Regions from separate parts of the Homo sapiens genome. Here region 2 is linked to region 1. Evidence: fine-mapped expression QTL. A gene starts in region 1. The other region holds a variant in brackets. All regions are shown on one strand. Distances are between the middles of the regions.

The links. PIP is the estimated chance that this variant, and not a neighbour inherited with it, causes the effect.
Region 2: its variant is the best candidate, but not a certain one, in a credible set for the expression of RBMS1 in NK cells (Gilchrist 2021, PIP 0.81).

What each region holds. Positions count from the first base shown.
Region 1 is chr2:160,491,216-160,496,597 of GRCh38, reverse strand. RBMS1 (RNA binding motif single stranded interacting protein 1) reads left to right here and starts at 2,791. Exons shown (of 14, transcript NM_016836.4): 1 at 2,791-3,309. The coding sequence starts at 3,235. RefSeq lists a silencer at 2,364-2,543 and an enhancer at 2,730-3,250.
Region 2 is chr2:160,287,607-160,292,988 of GRCh38, reverse strand. The region is part of intron 6 of RBMS1 (RNA binding motif single stranded interacting protein 1); the gene reads left to right. Among named protein-coding and RNA genes, the nearest start is that of LINC02478, 18 kb to the right of the region's middle. The variant A/G (reference allele first, on the strand shown) is at 3,206.

The sequences.
Region 1 (5,382 bases):
CTTTATGCATTCTGTTGACTTGCCTTTTTCATTCAACATCAGTTTTGAAATGATCCATGTTGATGCTTTTAACTGCAGCTTATTCATTTCTGTTTCTGCAACGACTCCAATGTGTGCATATACTAAAACCTTTTTAATCCACTCTACAGTTGGTAGACATTTGAGTTATTTTCTGCATATTATGAACATTCCTGTATATTTCTCCTGGTGCACATATAAAATAATTTATTTAAGGTACGTACCTGTTACTGTGTTGTAGGAAACATGCAAATGAAATTCAGGAATGCCAAATTGTTTTCTAAAGTGGTGGTTAGACCAATTTATACTTCCTCCAGGAAGCAGTGTTTTCAGATTTCCCCCCTTCCACATTTTTACCTACTCTTAATATTTTTAGAGTTCTTAATTTTTGCAAATCCGGTGAATATGAAATGGTATAGTAGTATTATTTTAATTTGCATTTCTCTTATTACTAATGAACTTGAGCATCTTTTTATATGTTTTCTGAATATTTGTGCTTCTGTGAAATACACATTCATTCTTTTGTTCATATTCTAACAAGTTCTCTTTTTTTATTGATTATTTATACATTCTGTATACTAACCTTTTGTGTTATATGTATTACAGGTATTTAGTGGCTTTTATCGCTTTTTATAAAATCCTTCAATGAACCAGTGTTCTTAATGTTAACAGTCAAATCTGTCAATCTTACACTGTTGTTCCCCTTATTTAACCAATCTTTCCTATTTCAGGGTCAAAAAGGTATTCTTCTATATTGTCTTCTAACAGCTTTATACTTTTGTTTTTCACATCCAGGTCATGATTCACCTCAATTTTCCACCCTCCTCCCTTGGTATGTGTGAGGCAGGGCTCCCATTTCATTTTTTCCATATGATTGCCAGTTGACCCAGAATCATTTATTGAAAAGTTCATTCTTTCTCCACTGCGCTATAATACCAACTCAGTCATAAATCAAGTGTCTATACAAGTGTAGGTCTGCTTTTGGGCTCTCTAAAACAGGCTGAATTTCCATCATCCAGAAAAAACAGTAAGTAGAACAGTCTAAGTTTGGTAGTTTCCCTTATTACCTCAAACCTAGAACTTCTGCGATTGTTCTCGATTTACTTCTCTTCCTTCTGTCACTCTTCCAAACCATCATTCCTAGTCTTCCTAAAGCACAATTTAGTTCATGTCAGTTCCCTGTTTAAAAACATTAAAAGGCCCCACATTGAAACAATATGGGAAATATTTTAGGCTCCCCTAGTCTGACAGTGACCCATTCCACTTTTCAGGTCTGCATGCACCTCAACAGTGCCTACAATATAGCAGACATAGTAAATATTAGCTTCCTTATAGGCTTTTACATAGGTAAATGAGAGGGACATGATTTGCCTCCTGGCAGAGCCAAAATGTTCTCACCTATACTTATATTTATTTTGTTTTTGTCAAACATGTAAGATCTAGAAATTTGTCTAAACCATAGAACGATTATAAGGGTTTCAGGTCCTTATTTTGTCATTGTTTTAAAGTATCTTACTAAACCTATTTTAAAATGTTATCATATAAAAATAATAACTGTTTAACAAAATAATGCATTCCAGTTGAGTTTAATTTACCTTGTGCTATTAACAAAAGACTCTTCAAAAACCAAAATGACAAAGTAAACAAGGTCTATTTAATAACAAACACAGTTTTTTATTACATTTTATTAGATGTGCCGGAACCCTAATTTGAGGATGCTTGCTTACCTATGCTATCCGTATGTACATTTTGGTATTAGCTCTCTTTTTGAGCTGGAATATAAAAGTCTTCTGCAGGCAGCTTCGGGGACCAATTAATTCCATTAAATTATATCTAGTTATGTAGTGAACTGAACCACTGCTGGTCTGAGGCTGTCTAGAGCTGTGACAATTAGGAGATGGAGAGAGGCAGAAAGAGAGATTGATTTTATATGTCACTGAAGCACACTGCAACAATATGCCAGCGTGACTTTCAAAATGGCCTTAAAATATTCCAAACTCAGGGAGTTTCCTTGCTCCTGAGTGGGAGTTGACAGACTGTCTGGCAGCATTAGAAAGAGGCAGAGAAAAGCTGATGTCTATATTGTGTCCTCTAATAACATTCTGCCTCTTTGCGGCATCCCCCTCTTAGAAGGATCCGTCTATATGTTGTGAGGGGTGTGTGTGTGTGTGTGTGTGTGTGTGTATGTATGTATGTGCTTTGCCTCCCCTTGTGCAAGGGGCATGATTTCACGTCTCACATCTGGGAAAACCAAACCGAAGGACGCTAACCCTCCCAAGGTCACCTAGATTAGTCTTGTGGCCCCGGGTCGGGGGTGGGTGGGAGGAACAGAACCCAGGTGTCCAGACTCCAGCTTTGTTGGGCATTAAATCATTTTCCTTCCCTTGTGAAAAAAAATTACTGGGCGGTGGGAAGTGAACGATTAATCAGATTTCCTCTTTTCCCTTATTTCCCCTCCCCCTTACGAAGATAAAAACTCGGGAAAGCAAAAGAGGTGCCCGCCCTGCAGTTCTTAAGCTGGGTCCCCCCGCATTCCCCCTCCACCCCCACTCCCACTCCCATTTCCCCACCCCCGACACAAAGCGATCTGGACTCACAGGGCTTCCGCCCGTCCAACCGCGAGCCTGGGAGGTGAGGAGTGGTTAAAACTCAGCCCTCACCTCCAGCGGGTCCCGGGCTCGGCGGCGCCCAGGCCCCGCCCCCGCCCGCCCTTCCCCCACGGCCTCGGAACGCCAGCCCCTCTCCTCTCTCCACATCGGGCGCACCCACCCCAGATGCCGCCTGGCACCAAGCGCAGCCGCCGCTGCCGCACTTTCCACTTGTATTGATCACCTCTCAGCCCCGCGCAGCCGGCTCGCCCGAGCGGACCGCGGCCAGCGCGCCAGCCCTTGGCAGCCCCGGAGCAGTCGGGCTCCGGGAGGAAACTCCTTGGGAGCGCCCTGTCCGGGGTGCCCTCTGCGCTCTGCAGTGTCTTTCTTTCTGCCTGGGAGGAGGAGGAGGAGGAGGAAGAGGAGGAGGAGGAGGAGGAGGAGGAGGAAGAGGAGGAGGAGGAGGAGGACGTCTGGTCCCGGCTGGGAGGTGGAGCAGCGGCAGCAGCAGCAGCCGCCGCCGCCGCCGCCGCTGCCGCCGCCGCCGGAAAGGGAGAGGCAGGAGAGCCCGAGACTTGGAAACCCCAAAGTGTCCGCGACCCTGCACGGCAGGCTCCCTTCCAGCTTCATGGGCAAAGTGTGGAAACAGCAGATGTACCCTCAGTACGCCACCTACTATTACCCCCAGTATCTGCAAGCCAAGGTAAAGGGGCGCCGGGGAGAGGTGACGGCCGGAGGAGGGGGCCCGGGGACGCGCGCAGGGTCAGGCCTGGGGAGGGGGGCGCGCGGCGAACCCCCGCCACCGCCGGGCGGAGTTGCTGGAAGGTTGCTAACTATAGCGCTGGCCTGGGCAGAGCCGGGCGGCGCGCGGGGCGGCGGCTTCCCTGGGAGCGGAGTGCGGGGATCGGGTTACAGAAAGCCGCGGGGGGAGAGACTAGACAGGAAAGAGCCACCAGCCCCTTCCTGGCCCGGCCAGCGGGGAGGGTCGTGGGGTCGAGCGGCGCCCCTCGCCGAGCCCTGGCTGGCCGGCGGCCGTCGCCTGGTGTGCGCGTCTGGATCCGCTGGTGGCCCGGCTTTTCGACCCCTTCTCCAAGGGCCTCGCCCTGTAAGCTGTAACTCTTCGCTCCCCTCGCCGTGGCGCGGAGCCTCCCGCCCCCCAGGGACGCCCCTCCACCTCCCGCGCACGCGATGACTGGGGCTGGAGGGGCGGCGGGGCCGGGATATTTTCCTCCCCGCCTCCGGCCCTGAGCGCCCGCCCCTCGCCTCTGATCTTTGTGCGGTGTGGCACTTCACCTGGTTACTGATTTCTACTTTTACGCTGGTGTTTTGGGTAGAAAAGTGGCCAAAGTTCACTCGCGTTCATTGATGTCCCTTCTAATCTCTAGAGGTTTTGCAAAGGAGGGACAATGGGCAGATTTCAGTGCAGAGAAAGAAGTGACTTCGTATTTGGTTAAAAAAGAAACAAAAACAAAACTAGCTTATATGTTTGCCACAGATCGATTTCCAATGTTGCTTTTTAAAAAGTGACCTCGGCACACTCTTGGGTAACAACAGTTGATGACATGTAGCCATACAAATTGCGCCTGGCTTTCTAGGGACCCTGGGTACTTTGTTAGTGGGCCTATCTTATTTTTACAATAAGAATTTGATGCCTCCCGAACTCATTTAAAAAAATTATTTGGGCCATGAAGACTGGAAATTTCACTGCTTTGGAAGCAGCCGCCAGAATTTGGGAGGGTGGAAGTTGGACGCAGCAGCCTTCTTCAGCCATTAACATCTATCACAACTCTGGGTGCCCTTCTAGATCACAAAAGAATCAGGTATGGATGCAGTGTCCGAACTTTCTTTGGGAGGTTGTAATCATGCTCTGCTTGCTGGTAGTTGGGCATTTCCGGCCTGGTACAAAGAATCTCTGATTCAGCCTTTTCTTTCTTAGAATGTGTGTGGTCCACGTTTTCATGTACTTACGACATAGCCCTGTATTTGTCTACGTAAAAAGGACACTTGTCAGTTTCGAGACCAGAAATGTCCTAGCAATCCCGGGCCTCATTTTCACTTCCCCCAATTCCCACTTTACTTTGGGTCACCAGAAAGCAGCAAGATGGTAGCAGCAAGGATACCCCTTATTCATCTCTGTGTAGTTCTCACAGTATTTGTTTTAGGAACTTGCAGGAGATGCTAGTTTTCTGTGAGCTACATGGTAGCTGTTCAAAGAAATTTTGTGGCATAATCAATGCACTACCTTTTAGATATCTTATATATTTAATGCACTTGTTTAAATTATGCAGCATTGGGTGCCTAAAGGACAGCTTATTCAACACTTAACAATATGAATAATAAATACACCCACTCAGGTGAGGAAGAAAAAAAGCCATGTTTCTACAGGCACATTTACCTTAGTAATTTTTATATACCATTAGTAAGTTAGAAACCAAGTCCATACCATTTAATGTAGCTAATGCAATGCCATTTGGCTTTTTTGCCCTGTAAATAATTGAAGAGAGAGACAAACGGCAAGAGCCTGCTCTAGTAATTAGGGTCGGATCCCAGAAAGCTTTACGGCCCATTTTCTGAAAGTGTGCTTCCTGCATAAAGCATTTAATATTGATTTGTGTTGCGGTAAATGACATTCTCAAAACATTTTGCTAATTCTACAATTAAATCTGAAATCCTATTATTCGGAATTCCTTTGTTTCTGGAGAAAGGTATACATACTCACTTGACCTATATAACATGGTATTAAAGTTTGGTAATTAAGTCTAAATTCCCTGTTGTA
Region 2 (5,382 bases), 200 kb after region 1:
CTCTTAAGAAGAATTGTTGTCGTGACAGCAAAAGCGCTGGAACAGGCCTAGGTGGCCAGTGGGGCAAGGGCGGTCTTGCAGATCCAGAATTCAAATTCATTCCTACTGAGGAGGAGAAGACTAGTTTTTAAAAAGTGACAGGGGCCCACAACCTGAGATGTGCCAGTGTTCTAGTCCCCACACCAGGCTTATGGTGAGGCTGCCTTACAACAATTATCACCATCGATCACACCCAGCCTACAGCCAGCCTCACAAATCAACATTTTACACCCTTTCACGATCAGGTTCTGCCAGTGAGGAGTAAATAGTGGAGTAAGATTTTATTAAAGCACAAGGCTCTTGGGTAGAAGTTGTAGGTGTTATTGTGTAACAGTTTTCTAAAAGACATTGACCAGTAACTTTATCCTTAACTATAACTTCAACATTTCTTCATTCTGTAAGAAGCCAAGGCAGCAACTCTAGCCAGCTCCTTAAATCTCTCAGATTCAAATCCCATGGATAACAGGCCAGTCCCCAAGTGTTTAGACCTTCTGAACCAGAAGTGTCCCTCTCCTGAGAATTTTTCTTCATTTGAAAACAAGAGGAGGAGCCATAATTCAAAAGTTTGAGCTCCCCCTGTTGCCACAGTAGTTAAGAACACTAGCTCTTCTAAGCACTTATTATGTTAACTATAACAATCTTTTGAAGTAGGCACTATTATCATCCCCATTTCAGAGATTATGAGACCAGAGACATTGAATAACTTTCCCGGAGTCACTAGCTAGTAAATACAAAAGCAGAATTTTAAACCCTTGGAGACTAATTATGAGCCAGTTAGAATACTGGTTAGAATACCACCATACAGTACACCCACCACTATAGCAGTTGGCACTGGAATTAAAAAAGATTAAGATCCACACACAGATGTTCCTGCGGTGTTAGTTACAATAATAAACTATGCAAATAAAATACTATGTCACCATTAAACAAGGTAGAGAAGGACCCACAACATAAATGGTAGAAGAAAAGGACCTATCATTGCAAATGTGAAAAATAAATGGCTCTACATAGACTTAGAAAAGTAGTAAATATAGAAAATTAAAAGATGTTTGTTGGAGTCATGGGAGGTATGGAGTTTTTGTTTTGTATTTAACATGACTTTAATATTGTCAAATCATTGTTTTACTGATAAACAACTCTTAGTTGATGGGTTGGGAAGTGAGGTGAAGGAGAATTTCAATAAGAAGAAAACTCAAACCCAGCAGGAGCAAAGCATGACTATATATAATCAGGTAACATGATTGTAACATGACGATATTACAAATGTTACTCTCTTCTCAAACTGGGTTGGAGATAGAAACACTACCTAAGGCACAGGGGAGGAGGAGAAACCTAAACAGCCTCGGGAGGAAGAACGTCCACAGAGAAAAGCTGTAGCTCTTCCTAGTGGTTGAATAGGTCAACAGAATTCAGTTAGAAAAGGAGAGGGCTAAAACAGGAAACGATGTTGTGCCCATAAAAAATAGATAATATTTATTGGATCCTTATTGAAATGTTTTAAAAGCAGCAGCTAGTTCCTTGCATTTTGTGAGTTGAGGAGTGTTGAAAGTAGCCAACATTATCAGAAAGAAAGCTAATTACAGTTGCTGAGTGGACTAGTTTTCCACAGTGGATAGGGAAGCTTCTATCAAGGGCAGTTTACATTTTACAGTGTTTTGATTAGGATAAAATACAGCATAACTAGAAAGATGGAAGTTTGGAAGTGACAGTTTCTCCACCTGTTAACTGCTGTCAGCATCTGACAGGGAAAAGCACGGAGAAGACCTTCGTTAGAACCTGCTGAGGAAAAGATCAGTTCTGTTACAAACTCTAGAGAGCTCCAAGTCCTTCCAAGCTGTTTGATAAGTGAGGAGGACTTGCAGATCTCATCATGAGCTACAGTGCTTACTCAGAGCAGGCATTCTAGAAGTGATTTTTTAGTACAAATATCAAAGAAAGACATTGGAGCACAAATCACTGTAGAGTTAAGTTTCAGAAGATCGGTAAGGAAAATACTCGGTGGAGATGGGCAGCAAGTCAGCCTGAGCCTTATCCATGGAGCTCACAGTCTCAGGAAGGATTGTCAGTACCACAAAATCAAGCTTGTGTAAGAGACCATCCCACTCTCAAAGCTCTGTTGAGAGCACACTGGAGAATCCAGTGACATGATTACCTTAGATGGCTCTTAAGAGATGCCGGAAAATATTAGATCAGTGTTTGCATTGCAGTGTTGCCTGGGGCCTTTAACAAATGCTCAAGGTAACACTGCAGTTGTCAAGCTGTTGGAGATGCATGTTCCTGTTGGTTCTGATGAACAGGAAAATAACTCTTTAGTTTTGGGTGATGAGAATGAGAATCCCTTTACAAACCCAAAAGATCACAACTAATTAAGGGGAAATTTAACCTAGAATGCTCTGCATATTTGGCAAAATCAGTTGATTTAAGGGTAGGTTATATCATTTTTATAGTACTTTAACACAGGAATACATCTTAAATCACAAATCATTTGTCAGAATTATTTGTAATCACTGCTTTGCAGAATAAGGTAAAAAGTTGCTAATCTGGAAAAGTAACCATGCATATAGAAGATTGACAGTTACATATTAATTTTTATATTAATTTGGCCAAACTTACATATCACTCAAAGTCATATGACTAGTATTTATGGCACTTCCTTTTCTGCATGTCAGTCTTCCGGTATCTCTCCCTTGTAAAAAACAATTGGAGTTCAGCTGAAAGGTACGCTCTATAGAACAAGCTACTGTCACATAGGATCTCCTGATTCTTCAACCTGTAACCTGTATATTCAGCTCCAAAAGGCAAACTAGGGACTACCGCTGGTTTGGTAGAAGCCACAGGAGATGCTGGCCAAATGAGGATCTCTCATTTTGTAACACGCTCACACACACTTAAAAATAAGTGGGTCATGACATCAGTGTGTTTTGTTTGTTTTTCCTACCCAAAAATCTAACAGATCATCTAACCCTTGCTCAACATCATGGTAAGACCACATATCAATTACAATAAGTCAGGCCCTTTTGCCACCCTAAAATACCTAAAAATTTCTTAAATCTTGATGTAATTTGCTTTCCTAGGGCACATGGACAATCTTTGTAATGAATAAAACATTAAGAACTTATAGGGAGAAGCTGTTTCTAATAATGTCCTTCAAATAAATGGAACAGCA[A/G]TTGTCAAAGAAATACAGCTGTTTCTGCATCAAAAGTATTTTGCTTCTGGTTAGCATTTTTATTGAAAACAAATACCTCTAAAAACAATGCTCTGTTCCATAAATGACTAAATGGGTTTTCATGAGATTAGGTACACTCTTTTCTCCATTAAACTGCAAGCCCCAGGGAGGCAAGGACCCTGTTTTATCTACCACTGTATCCCCAGCTCTTGTGTACTTGGCACATAGTGGACATTAAGTTAAAATTTTGATGGTTAAATAGACCAAAGAGAATTTTAAAGAGGAAAGCTGTTAGAATTTTATATTGCTTCACATGGAATATTGGGGTACTCCCATTTCCCTGAAACAAGCAGCCAGCAACTATCTCAGAAATGTGTCATTTTTACTGGTTATAATTCTTAAAAAGCTTGTTTTCCTAAGATATGAAATGCCTGCCAGTATACAAACTGTTGTAACTACTTCCCTTTTTGCTTTTAGCGGGGAAAAAATAGCTTAATGACAGCATAGAATCATGTAGTAAATATAATTCATTTTTTGAAAGGTTCAGCTATATCCTCTTCCATTTGTTTATTTTAAATGATCTAATTGCAAACATGTCATCACTCCCTTGATGTTTACCTCCTTGTTATGCATTTTTAGCAGGCTTTATTGTCACCTGAGATTTTTTTTTTCTTTGACAGGCTGGAGTCTAGATGAAGGAAAATGTGTTAGAAGCACCTTATCCACAGATGGGGACACTTGGTCATTCAGCACATGTTGAGCTTAGGCAGGCATCAGGGTCTGGCTGCTTACCTGCTTTTATTCACACCTGCCTGTTTAGGTGGCCTGCACTGAACTTCTAGAATGAGTCCAACCTGATCATTTACTGTCTCTGAAAGAAATTATGCTAATAGAGAAAAACGGCCAGTTGGGATCACTTGCTGAGCCAAGTAACTTCTTTAAAAAAAACAAAAAAAAGGTTAAATTTCAGTCTAGGACCTAGTTTTCATAAACCCTCTAGATAAAAGCACCTCGTTTTAGAGAAGACCCACTATGTACCAGCACCACCAAATTTATTATCTTCTCTCTTGCTCTACGAGATTATGTGGAGTCAACATCTTACAACCTCAAATGTCAGTGGATAAACCTCTCTAGATCTGGGCCAAGGCTTGCTGATAGTCTCACCAGACACCTAACATTTTTGTTCCTGACTCGTCATACCCATAGTCCAGTTGTCATTCAGAAGTGAGTTGGCATTCCAACCCATCCCTCCAGAGTGGTTCACACCAGGGAAAGAAGAAAGGAGTGCCAGGCAGCAGCCCAGACAGCTCACCCAGAAGGAGTTACAGTTGGGCTTTTTGTTTTCTTTTGTTTTGTTTTTTGGCAGAGAAGTGTTGAAAGACACTACTGCTTCCACCCTGTCATTAGTGGGTGGGTAATCATGAAATAAAATAAGAGATGAATTAGGATAATAAGAGGCACAGGAGAAAGGAGTAAATTTTCCACAAGTAATATTTTTCTCTTCGTGGTTATTTAACTTTGAAACAGAACTTGAAAGTAGTAATCATGGTTCTACAGTAGACAAAGGACAGAATGTGGGAACCAGACAGGAAGGTGTGATTGCCTTTATTACATTAACTAGAAACACAGAAAAATGCACAACTTTCTGGAATACACTGCTATTTCCATTGCAGAAAAGCAAAGAAAAGGAAAAGTTACTGGTGCCCTATTGTGCTGTCTGTAGACTTTTTTTTTTTTTTAACTCTAATGAGTATATATCTTTGAAAATATTCTCTACATCTTCTGCTTTTCTGTTTTGGCCTCATGGATTCTGTAAGAAGAATTTATATAAATGTATAGGTATATAGTAATATATATTATAAGTAATATAGTAATAATATACAGATCTATATATAGTGGTATATAGATATATAGTAAAGCAATACCCAGTTGTATGATTAAAGGCACAGAAAAACCTTTAAATAGGGTGGACAAGTATTTTTAGCTTTCTCACAACAGCCATCTTCACTGACGTATCCCAAAAATAAACATATGAGACCTATTTCTATTCATTCACTGATGCAACCAAGATGTAATAAGCAACTACAAAGTCCAGACACTTAGGCACTGGGGATACAGTGATAGACAAAACAGACAATGTTACTGCCCCCATGGGGCGTATAGCCTAGAAGGGGAAA